Linked DNA regions of Homo sapiens: regions 2 and 3 are each linked to region 1. The links come from fine-mapping of genetic effects on gene expression. A gene starts in region 1. Each other region holds a variant in brackets. All regions are shown on one strand. Distances are between the middles of the regions.

What was found. PIP is the estimated chance that this variant, and not a neighbour inherited with it, causes the effect.
Region 2: its variant is the best candidate, but not a certain one, in a credible set for the expression of PABIR3 in tibial nerve (GTEx, PIP 0.75).
Region 3: its variant is the best candidate, but not a certain one, in a credible set for the expression of PABIR3 in atrial appendage (GTEx, PIP 0.66).

Annotation. Positions count from the first base shown.
Region 1 is chrX:134,805,574-134,809,813 of GRCh38, reverse strand. It overlaps PABIR3 (PABIR family member 3), which reads right to left and starts at 2,577. Exons shown (of 11, transcript NM_001388447.1): 1 at 2,473-2,577; 2 at 2,106-2,274. The coding sequence starts at 2,215. RefSeq lists enhancers at 719-1,675, 2,061-2,220.
Region 2 is chrX:134,836,734-134,840,973 of GRCh38, reverse strand. All of the region lies in intron 4 of PABIR3 (PABIR family member 3), which reads right to left. Among named protein-coding and RNA genes, the nearest start is that of PABIR3, 32 kb to the right of the region's middle. The variant C/T (reference allele first, on the strand shown) is at 1,867.
Region 3 is chrX:134,829,246-134,833,485 of GRCh38, reverse strand. It overlaps PABIR3 (PABIR family member 3), which reads right to left. Exons shown (of 11, transcript NM_001388447.1): 4 at 4,204-4,240. Among named protein-coding and RNA genes, the nearest start is that of PABIR3, 24 kb to the right of the region's middle. RefSeq lists a silencer at 1,202-1,416. The variant A/G (reference allele first, on the strand shown) is at 1,835.

The DNA of each region.
Region 1 (4,240 bases):
TAGGTATTGGTTAGTAGTGGCCAGAACAGTAGTTTAGGAGTCAGGAAACAGAGCTTCCTAGTACTGGCTCTGCCACTAAACGTCATTTTGGAGATTTATGGGCCTCAGTTTCCTCATATGTTAAACAAGGAGGGTAAAGCTGGTCTCTGAATCCCTTCCTGATAGTCTATGGTACTGTGAATTACAACTATCAATTAGTATGATGCAACAAAAGGTGAAGAGCAAAGTTAGTAACATATGTAGTGAATGCATTTTTCAGACATTTTTACGGTATCTAGAAAACCTTATAATACTGAAATGTGAAATCCAACATCTCATTTTAAAAGTCTAGTTTAAGAAGTAAGATTTAGGCCAGGCGCAGTGGCTCACGCCTGTAATCCCAACACTTTGGGAGGCCAAGGTGGGCGGATCACAAGGTCAGGAGATCAAGACCATCCTGGCTAACACGGTGAAACCCCGTCTCTACTAAAAATACAAAAAATTAGGTGGGCGTGGTGGCGGGTGCCTGAAGTCCCAGCTACTCGGGAGTCTGAGGCAGGAGAATCGCTTGAACCCGGGAGGCAGAGGTTGCAGTGAGCCGAGATCATGCCACTGCACTCCAGCCTGGGCGACACAGTGAGACTCCGTCTTAAAAAAAAAAAAAAAAGGAAACAAGATTTAGTAATCCCAGATCTTCAGAAATACAGTTAACCATCATTTAGTGTAGTGTTTCTAAATCCTTTTTTCATTATTGACCCTCTAAAAAGCCTTTTTAGACATTTTTCCCCTAATTGCTCCCCCTTCGTGAAATTTTAATAACACATATATAGTATATATCTGTGTACATACTGTATGTATATCTGCGCTTTATACATAAAAAGAGTAAAAATTTTTCACACTCCCCCAAGAACTATTTTCTCTTCCCCTTGGGGGAAGTATCACCCAGTGAGAATGTGTAATTTAGGAGATCAAGCTTCTGTGGTACCAAAACTTTCTGCTCCAATAAAAAATAGGTGTAGGCCAGGAGCAGTGGCTCACGTCTGTAATACCAGCACTTTGGGAGGCTGAGGCAGGCGGATCCCCTGAGGCCAGGAGTTCGAGACCAGCCTGGCCAACATGGTGAAACCCTGTCTCTACTAAAAATACAAAAAATTAGGCCGGGCACGGTGGCTTACGCCTGTAATCCCAGCACTTTGGGAGGCCGAGGCGGGCGGATCACGAGGTCAGGAGATCAAGACCATCCTGACTAACACGGTGAAACCCTGTCTCTACTAAAAATACAAAAAATTAGCCGGGAGTGTTGGTGGGCGCCTGTAGTCCCAGCTACTTGGGAGGCTGAGTCAGGAGAATGGCGTGAACCCGGGAGGTGGAGCTTGCAGTGAGCCGAGATCACGCCACTGCACTCCAGCCTGGGCGACAGAGTGAGACTCCGTCTCAAAAATAAATAAACAAATAAATAAAAAATAAAAATACAAAAAATTACCAGGTGTGGTGGTGGGCGCCTGTAATCCTAGCTACTAGGGAGGCTGAGGCATGAGAATTGCTTGAAGCCAGGAGGCGGAGGTTACAGTAAGCTGAGATCGTGCCAATGCACTCCAGCCTGGGCGACAGAGCAAGACTCCGTCTCAAAAAAAGACAAAAAAAAAAATGTAAAAAAGTCCAAAGCTTATTTGCTTGACAACCATTTCCATTCAAGCGGCTGGAGGTGAAGGTCAGAGGTGACAAAGCAGCTGAAATGACAAATATTACAGTCATGGCAGAAGATCTGGAGGTGAGTGGGGGAGGATACTAAGTTTCTTCAAAGGAGTGGGTAAGAAATGGGTTGAAGTTAGAAAAAAGCCGTGCTCCACACCAACTGGCTGCTACTTTCGGGTCCGAGTGGACTATCAGGGGAGGATGTTCAGATTCAGATGTTTGTCAACCTCAGGGTGGGTGCGCGCTCCCCCTCAGGTCAGCCCGTCCCACTACCCCCACCCAAGGTTGAGGGTGGGATCTCCGGACACCAGGAACAAGGGAGTTACCTGCAGAACCTCAACAAATAAAGGGACGGGAATTCTATAGGAAATCACTTTCCCGAACACCTCCTCCCCACCGCTTGCCTCCTCCAGTATCTCAACCCGGCTCACCCAAGTCCATTGATCAAAGGGGCACTGTTGACTCTTCTCAGAATGTTGCCGTCTGCGGTAGTGGAACTCGGCAGCGACTTGAAACCTAGTTTCATTTTCTCCTGTGCCATGTCCGGGTCGAGGAATAAGTTCTCAAGGCTTTCCGGCTCCCGTCCACACAAGGACAAGTCTACTTAGTGGGCAGGTGATGTAAGGAGAGAGGCAAAGGGGAAAAAGAGAAGAGAGGAGAAAGCTCTTAGGCGAGTAGGGGTGCCCACCTTTGCAGCCCTAGCAGCCCTAACATCAGTGAACACAAAGTTAGGCAGAACTGGCTCCGAACCGCCTATCTCCCATGATCGGGGCCTCTAACGATGAGAAGATCCCCCACCTCCAAGTCTATAATGTAACTGGGGAATTTAATCTGTCACCGCCGCGAATCCTTCTCCATCTCTCTCAGCCCTGGCAACTCATGGTAAGCCTTTCCGGCCAAAACAAAAACTACAATCTGCCGCCTTTGACAATCAGTTGGGTCCCGCCCCTCAGAGCCTGCGATAAGCTATCAGCCGGACGACGCCTGTTGTGATGCAGGCAATGACGTCACTTCAGGCGCCTTAGTCAGCTTTGCCAGGGGCGCACGCGCAGTTAAGAAACCGCTTTATCCCCATGTCCTGCCCTCCTTCCTCTTTCCCCAATGCCCACTTACCGTGGTTGTGCCTCTACTCTTTTACTAACCCTGGCATGGTTTCCTTAAGCATTATTTAGAAATGAAAGCGTTGGGAGGAGTGAGGTCCTTCCTGCCCTATGCCTAATTCTCATTTTTCTTATCCCTTTATGACTGAGGCCAACAAGCTTCTAACCTCCTATGATGCATTTTTCCATCCTGTAACAGCAGACACACTACACCTTTGTAATTTTAGAAAAGCAAAAGTCTGAAAAAAAAAAAAAAAAAAAGATACTGCTACCTAAGTGCTTAGAGGCCACTTGGTCCCAAAGGGTCTTGCTAAGGTGCTAACCTAACTGAGCTCATTTGGCAAACGAATTACTGTTTTCAGTGTGGTTTCTTTCTTTCTTTTTTAAACCATAATCGTACAGTTTTTTGTTTTTTTTTTTTTGAGATGGAATTTCGCTCTTGTTGCTCAGGCTGGAGTGCAGTGGCCGCGATCTCGGCTCACTGCAACCTCCACCTCCCAGGTTCAAGCGATTCTCCTGCCTCAGCCTCCCGAGTAGCTGGGATTACAGGTGCTCGCCACCACGCCTGGTTAATTTTTGTATTTTAGTAGAGACGGGGTTTCACCATGTTGGCCAGGCTGGTCTCGAACTCCTGGACCTCAGGTGATCCGCCCGCCTCGTCCTCCCAAAGTGCTGGGATTACAGGCGTGAGCCACCGCGCCTGCCTCAGTGTGTATTTTTACATTATATATAATCTGGCTCCTCACAGCTATTCATATAAAAAATAAAGACCTCAGCTAATTTACAAAGATTTGAGTTAAAGCAGTGAGGCTTTTTTAAAAACAAATATCTCAGAATTTAGTATCAATGCAAATCAGTGTTTTCATTTCAGGTAGTATTAGAAGCTACATACATTCTAAGAATGCTGCCATGGCTCATATCGTTTTAAGAACTACTCTTTTAGAAATTTTCACCATCACTTAATGAGCCACACTGAGTACTGAAATCTTAACTCCATGCTAATAATTTTGTAAAACCACACATTTTAGTAACCATATAGAGAACTGGCAGACAAGGCAAATAAACCTAGTGAAATGGGAGTTATTAATTAAAATAGTCATAACACTGGTATAGCACTTTACGGATAACATTTTTTTTTTTTTGAGACGGAGTTTCGCTCTTGTTGCCCAGGCTGGAGTGCAATGGCGCAATCTTGGCTCACCACAACCTCCACCTCCCTGGTTCAAGCGATTCTCCTGACTCAGCCTCCAGAGTAGCTGGGATTACAGGCATGTGCCACCACTCCCAGCTAATTTTGTATTTTTAGTAGAGATGGGGTTTCTCCATGTTGGTCAGGCTGGTCTCGAACTCCCGACCTCAGGTGATCCACCCGCCTCGGCCTCCCAAAGTGCTGGGATTACAGGTATGAGCCTCCACGCCTGGCCTACAAAATGTTTTCACATACTTATCTGGATTGGTTCAATCAT
Region 2 (4,240 bases), 31 kb before region 1:
AATAAATAAATACATAAATAAATATTTGACCTAGTCCTTCAAAGATGTATAAAATATGAACAAGCAGTGAGTAGAGGGAAGGGTATTCCAAGCAGAAGAACCCATATGAACAAAAGTTTAGGAGAGGGAAAAAAATACAACAGATTTGGAGATAGTGAGACTACCTTGGCTGAAACTGAGTTTGTGCTACAAAGTAATGAGAGAGAAAACAGGAGAGGTAAGACAGGGCCAGTTTTACAGGTTCTTAAATAATCAAACAGTTTGAATTTAAAGAATTTGGGCAGAATCACGTCATTGTCAGGACCCCGGCTTTGGAGACAAACAGAACTGAGTCAAATCCCAGCTCTATAACCTACTACCTGTGCAAACTTAGGCAGGTGACGTCACCTGAGCGTCAGTTTCTTCATCCATATGAAGATGACGATAAGAATGAGGATGATGAGGTGGCTGTACAGTTCTCATCACACTGCCTGGCAAACAGTTCAGTGCTTAACACATATTAGCTATTTTTATTATTATTCAATAGGTAATGGGAAGCCATTGTGACATTTTGTATGGGGGGAAGAAAGTGAAAATGATGTTTTTTTTGTTTTGTTTTTGTTTTTTGTTTTTTTTTTTATTGATCATTCTTGCGTGTTTCTCGCAGAGGGGGATTTGGCAGGGTCTCAGGACAATAGTGGAGGGAAGGTCAGCAGATAAACAAGTGAACAAAGGTCTCTGGTTTTCCTAGGCAGAGGACCCTGCGGCCTTCCGCAGTGTTTGTGTCCCTGGGTACTTGAGAATAGGGAGTGGTGATGACTCTTAACGAGCACGCTGCCTTCAAGCATCTGTTTAACAAAGCACATCTTGCACCGCCCTTAATCCATTTAACCCTGAGTGGACACAGCACATGTTTCAGAGAGCACAGGGTTGGGGGTAAGGTCACAGATCTACAGGATCCCAAGGCAGAAGAATTCTTAGTACAGAACAAAATGAAAAGTCTCCCATGTCTACTTCTTTCTACACAGACACGGCAACCATCCGATTTCTCAATCTTTTCCCCACCTTTCCCCCCTTTCTATTCCACAAAACCGCCATTGTCATCATGGCCCGTTCTCAATGAGCTGTTGGGTACACCTCCCAGACGGGGCGGCTGGCCGGGCAGAGGGGCTCCTCACTTCCCAGTAGGGGCGGCCGGGCAGAGGCGCCCCTCACCTCCCGGACGAGGCGGCTGGCCGGGCGGGGGGCTGACCCCCCCACCTCCCTCCCGGACGGGGCGGCTGGCCGGGCGGGGGACTGACCCCCCCACCTCCCTCCTGGATGGGGCGGATGGCCGGGCAGAGGGGCTCCTCACTTCCCAGTAGGGGCGGCTGGGCAGAGGCACCCCTCACCTCCCGGATGGGGCGGCTGGCCTGGCGGGGGCTGACCCCCACCTCCCTCCCGGACGGGGTGGCTGCCGGGCAGAGACGCTCCTCACTTCCCAGACGGTGTGGCTGCCGGGCGGAGGGGCTCCTCACTTCTCAGACGGGGCGGCTGCTGGGCGGAGGGGCTCCTCACTTCTCAGACGGGGCGGTTGCCAGGCGGAGGGTCTCCTCACTTCTCAGACGGGGCGGCCGGGCAGAGATGCTCCTCACCTCCCAGACGGGGTCGCGGCCGGGCAGAGGCGCTCCTCACATCCCAGACGGGGCAGCGGGGCAGAGACGCTCCTCACTTCCTAGATGGGATGGCGGCCGGGAAGAGGCGCTCCTCACTTCCTAGATGGGATGGCGGCCGGGCAGAGACGCTCCTCACTTTCCAGACTGGGCAGCCAGGCAGAGGGGCTCCTCACCTCCCAGACGATGGGCGGCCAGGCAGAGATGCTCCTCACTTCCCAGACGGGGTGGCGGC[C/T]GGGCAGAGGCTGCAATCTCGGCACTTTGGGAGGCCAAGGCAGGCGGCTGGGAGGTGGAGGTTGTAGCGAGCCGAGATCACGCCACTGCACTCCAGCCTGGGCACCATTGAGCACTGAGTGAACCAGACTCCGTCTGCAATCCCGGCACCTCGGGAGGCCGAGGCTGGCAGATCACTTGCGGTTAGGAGCTGGAGACCAGCCCGGCCAACACAGCGAAACCCCGTCTCCACCAAAAAAATACGAAAACCAGTCAGGTGTGGCTGCGCGCGCCTGCAATCGCAGGCACTCGGCAGGCTGAGGCAGGAGAATCAGGCAGGGAGGTTGCAGTGAGCCGAGATGGCAGCAGTACAGTCCAGCTTCCGCTCGGCATCAGAGGGAGACTGTGGAAAGAGAGGGAGAGGGAGACCGTGGGGAGAGGGAGGGGGAGGGGGGAGGGGGGGAGGGGGGAGGGGGAGGGGGAGAGGGAGAGGGAGGAAAATGATGTTTTTTAAAAAAAAAAAATTTGGCCAGGCACAGTGGCTTGTGCCTGTAATCCCAGCACTTTGGGAGGCCGAGGTGGTTGGATCACGAGGTCAGGAGATCGAGACCATCCTGGCTAACACGGTGAAACCCCGTCTCTACTAAAATTAGCTGGGCGTGGTGGCAGGTGCCTGTAGTCCCAGCTACACGGGAGGCTGAGGCAGGAGAATGGCGTGAACCCAGAAGGCAGAGGTTGCAGTGAGCCGAGATTGCGCCACTGCACTCCAGCCTGGGCGACAGAGCGAGACTCTGTTCCAAAAAAAAAAAACATTTATCTTGGTCTTCATTGTGGAAGTTGGATAAACTGGGAGAAACAGAAAATCTACTGGGATATTATTTCAGTAATCTAGACCCATGGGACAGAAGAAGGAAGCAGCAGTGACAACAAAGAGGATATTGTCAAGGAAGAATTAGTAGGATTAGAAGCCTAATTGGATACAGTAGAAAAATAAGGAAGAACTGAAGAAAAATCAAGAGCTTTGAGTCTTAAACCTGTGACTATTTTGATACCATACAATGAGGTATCAAATCGAGAGCTTTGAGTCTTAAAACTGTGACTATTTTGATACCACACAATGAGGTACAGAAAATGAGGGAATTGGAAAAGGTAATTTAAGAAGATAATTAGTCTTTTAAAAGCAATGGAATAACAGTAAATTCAGCAAAATGTAATTGTTAGTATAGTTCTTCAATTTAATATTATATAGATAGTCTCCTCTAGTGTGAAACTCAAAGTATTTTGTAGTTCATTCGGTCAACAAGTACAGAGCAGGTAGTTTTGTGAAACTGAGATAGAATTCTGCTTAATATTCCTCCCACTGAAAGTTGGAGCATTAGCTAAAATCAGCTATTGAAGGTTGTTAGGAGAAGAGTGTTGACTCTTTTTCATTTATGTCTTGCCTATTTCCAAAATGGATTTGAGATGGTTTATAATAAAATAAGATTATTAAAATAAGTATAAAAGGTCAACAGCCATGCATTATAACTGTAAGAAGCAGAGTACAGTATACTAGAAACCTAGTTTAAGGAGAATTGTTATACTTGGATGTTAAAGTTAGCTTTCCATTTTTCAGGATACATGGTAAAAATGGGAACTGTAAGTTACCAACTTTTGCTCTCCGAGGAGACTACATCTGAAAGATTTTAGTTACTGAGTGCCTGCACAGTACCCAATAAAGGCTTGTTGAAAGAATGAAACAATCTGTAAACTAAAATCAAATTTAAATTTTTTTTTTTTGGAGAAGGAGTCTTACTTTGTCACACCAGCTGGAGTGAGTGCAGTGGTACAATCTCAGCTCACTGCAACCTCTGGTTCCCGGGTTCAAGCGATTCTCCTGCCTCAGCCTCCCGAGTAGCTGGGATTACAGGCATGCCTCACCAGGTCTGGCTAATTTTTATATTTTTAGTAGAGATGGGGTTTCTTCACGTTGGTCAGGCTGGTCTCGAACTCCTGACCTCAGGTGATCCACCCGCCTCGGCCTTCCAAAGTGCTGGGATTACAGGCGTGAGCCACCGTGCCCGGCCAGCAAATTAAAAAAAAAATTTTTTTAAAGACGGAGTCTTCTTATGTTGCCCAGGCTGGTCTTGAACTCCTGGCCTCAAGTGATCCTCCTGCTTTGGCCTCTCAAGTCACTGGAATTACAGGCACGAACCACCACGCCCAGCTCAATTTCTTCTTATTGATTTTTACTTAAGACACTACAGAGAAAGTTAAGTTGTTACTGGGTGCCAATGACTCATATCCTGTTTAACAAATCAGGAATTAAATATAAAGCTATATAACAAAAAACTGTGAGCAGACTGTTATGGGTTGAATTGTGTCCCCTCAAATTCCTGTGTTGAAGTCCTAATCCC
Region 3 (4,240 bases), 24 kb before region 1:
ATTGTGTTTGGATCAGTTAAAAAATGCATTTTTAAGAATTAGGAAAAATATAACATGGATTTAGATGACATTAAGGAATAAGGTAATTTGTTATGCATAATGATGGCATTGTGATTATGGAGAAAAAAAGTCCTTCTCATACCCATAAACTTGGGTAAAAAGATATGTCAGAAATTTAAAGCACTCTCTCCCACCCCTAAAAGAGAAGCAGATCGATGAAAAAGGATGTACAAAATGTGGATAATTGTTAAAGCTGGGTGTTAGGTACATGAAGATTCTATATTCCATGTTTTAAATTTTCCATTTAAAAAGATTTTTTTTAATGCAGTACTCTTGGCATTATGCATAATTACTTACAGTCATCCCTTGGTATATGTGGGGAATTGGTTCCAGCACCCCCCCACTGCAATACCAAAATCCACACATCCTCAAGTCCACAGTGGGCCTTCTGGAACCCGAGGATACAAAAAGTCACCCATACGTATAGGAGGGTTTCACATCACACGCCATTCAAATCCATGTTGTTCAAGTTTGGAGGTTCCTCAAAAAATGAAAAATAGAGTTACCATATGATCCAGCAATCTCACTCCAAGGTATATCACCCACCAAAAAGGAAATCAGCATATAGAAGAGATATCTACATTCCCATGTTTATTGCAGCACTGTTTACAATACCTAAGATTTGGAAGCAGCCTAAGTGTTCATCAACAGATGAATGGATAAAGAAAATGTGATACATATAAACAGTGGAGTACTATTCAGCCATAAAAAGAATGAGATCCAGGCTGGGCACGGTGGCTCACGCCTGTAATCCCAGAATTTTGGGAGGCTGAGGCAGGCAGGATCACCTGAGGTCAGGAGTTCGAGACCAGCCTGGGCAACATGGCGAAACCCTGTCTCTACAAAAAATACAAAAATTAGCCTGTCGTGGTGGCGTGGGCCTATAAACCTAGCTACTCAGCAGGCTGAGGCAGGAAAATCACTTGAACCTGGGAGGCAGAGGTTGCAGTGAGCTGAGATGGCGCCACTGTACTCCAGCCTGGGTGATAGAGCAAGACTGTCTCAAAAAAAAAAAAAAAAAAAAAAAAAAAGGGATCCAGTCGTTTGTAGCAACATGGATGAAACTGGAGGTCATTATGTTAAGTGAAATAAGCCAGGCACAGAAAGACAAACATCGCATGTTCTAACTTATCTTCTTTTTTCTTTTTTTTGAGACGGAGTCTCTCTCTGTCACCCAGGCTGGAGTGCAGTGGCGCGATCTCGGCTCACTGCAACCTCCGCCTCCCAGGTTCAAGTGATTCTTTAGCCTCAGCCTCCTGAGTAGCTGAGATTACAGGCACCCACCACGCACGGCTAATTTTTGTATTTTTGGTAGAGACGGGGTTTCACCATGTTGGCCAGACTGGTCTCGAACTCCTGACCTCAAGTGATCTGCCCACCTCAGCCTCCCAAAGTGCCGGGAATACAGGCGTGAGCCACTGCGCCCAGCCTCATGTTCTTGCTTATTTGTGGGAGGTAAAAATTAAAACACTTGAACTCATGGAGATAGAGATTAGAAGGATGGTTACCAGAGGCTGGGAAGGGTAAATGAGGGGTGGCGAGGAAGTGGGATGGTTAATGGGTACAAAAATATAGTTAGAAAGAACAAATAAGACTCAGTATTTGCTAGCACAACAGGGTGACTATAGTCAATAATAATTTAATTATACATTTAAAAATAACTAAAAGGATAATTGAATTGTTTGTAACACAAAGGATAAATGCTTGAAGGGATGGATACTCCATTTACCCTGATGTGATTATTACATGTTGCATACCTATATCAAAGTATCTC[A/G]TGTACCCCATGGCACCTGTAAAAATTAAATTAATTACTTTTTAAAAACCCAGGTTGTTGAAGGGTCAGTTGTAATTCTTTTCATCCTCAAAACGATTCTATGAGATAGCCAATATTATTCCCCCCATTTTGAAAAATCAATGCCCTTATTAATGTTGTTAAAGTGAAAGTTCAGAAGGTAATGGGGAGAGAACCAGACATTTCTGTTTTGCACTTAAAAGGTTAAGTTTAATAGGGACAAAGAAGTCAGTCAAAGAATGCATGTAAAGAAATATGCAACTTATGCCAGGCACAGTGGCTCACCCCTGTAATCCCAGCACTTTGGGAGGCTGAGGTGAGCAGATCACTTGAGGTCAGGAGTTCGAAACCAGCCTGACCAACATGGTGAAACCCTATCTCTACTAAAAATACAAAAAAATTAGCCGGGTGTGGTGGCACGCACCTGTGATCTCAGCTACTTGGGAGGCTGAGGCAGGAGAATCCCTTGAACCCAGGAGGTGGAGGTTGTAGTGAGCTGAGACAGCACCACTGCACTCCCGCCTGGGTGACAGAGTGAGACTCCATCTCAAAAACAAAGAAAAAAAAAAAAGAAATATGCAACTTAAGATATCTATCAGACCATTAAACTGCTGAAAATAAGTCTTAATTTTCCATTCAATCAGTATCCAGATTGAAAATTAATGTTTTTCTCTTTTCCCATCTCATTCATTTTCTACTTATATTTCATTTTTAAATATTTATAATACATATTATGTTACTATGGAAATAAACTGCATTAAACTTATATTCCTAACCAGTGTAAATTAGGATTTATATCAAGCTTCACCAGCAAATAGCAACACATAACCCATTTTCAAATATTTGGTTTAATTTAGGAGAAGCAAAGAAACATATTGCACAGATAAACACGAGGTCACTTTACTCCTTTGAACTTGTTTCATTCCTTAAGAATTTCTAAAATAGCTACATACAAAGACAGGAGTAAAAGCAAGTTTTACCCACTAAAAAGTAAAAAAAACAGCCTGGCACGGTGGCTCACGCCTGTAATCCCTGCAATTTGGGAGGCCGAGGTAGGCAGATCACCTGAGGTCAGGAGTTCAAGACCAGCCTGGACAACATGATGAAACCCCGTCTCTACTAAAAATACAAAAATTAGCCGGGCGTGGTGGCAGGCGTCTGTAATCCCAGCTACTTGGGAGGCTTAGGCAGGAGAATCGCTTGAACCTGGGAGGTGGAGGTTGCAGTGAACCAAGATGGAGCCACTGCACTCCAGTCTGGGCAACAGAGCGAAACTCTGTCTCAAAAAAAAAAAAAAAAAAAAAAAAAGGAAAAAAACCATTTTTACCATACTTTCTTGCTAGTGGATAAGCTGACCTTAGGGAAGCCATGCCACAGGGGTGAAAGGGAGAGAGGGAAAAGAAGCAAGAGTTGGAGGACTAATAACTAGGATTACAAGATGGTATTATGGGCTTTGTGCACTGAAACAGGGAAAGGGGAGCTGGAAAATAATCCAGTAATCTGGGGCCAAATCTTGGCTCTGACATTCACCAACTCTGGAGATTGGGTAAATTGCTAAATTTCTCCCCTTTTTAGTTTCTGACCTTATAAAGTTGTTGTAAGATAAAATGAGACCACAAATGTAAAGTACCTGTTAGTACTAAGTGAATAATAAGTTAAGCCTCTCTTGGGGGAAAAAATGTCTGCTTGTAGCTGGGTCAAAGAAAAAAATACCACCTGTGGGGTAGTGGTGATTTGATCTTTTGAGTTCTGTGGCTAATCCTTGGATAATTAAAAGGTTGAATTCTGTATTATGCTTGTGCTATTAAGCATGCATGTGCACATGAGTGCACACCCACCCACCCACATACACCCTCCCAACCACATACACAAACACAAACACACAAACACAGAGACGTGCATGCGTGCACATGGGCACAAAATATAAACCAGTGAGGTACAATGTGTCCCTGAACTCAGATCACTAAGAACAAAACAATAGCATGAAGGCCATTTTATCTGTCAAAAAAACTCATCTGAGGGTTAAAAAAATAATAACTACAGTTATTATGAAGCTGAAAATTAATTTTTATGTGTAGCATTCCACTTTCAGATCCCTGGAAGAAAGAAGCTAGACTCAAGGTATAAGAGTATGCAGTATTTCTAGAAATTATTAATTAATTAAAATAGCTAATAAGCCAAAAAAAGTGCTTCTTAGTTTTGTTTTTTTTTTGAAGAAATCATTCCTAGAAATAAAAACTTAATATTACACGTGACCTCACTTAGAATTACTGAAACATAGGTATTTTCACAAAGAAAAATAAAATTTACTTTTTTAAATGAACAGCTGTCAGTTTGGAAAGTCTTCTTACCTGTTTGATTTGATGAAGGCGGCTGATGGAACCATGA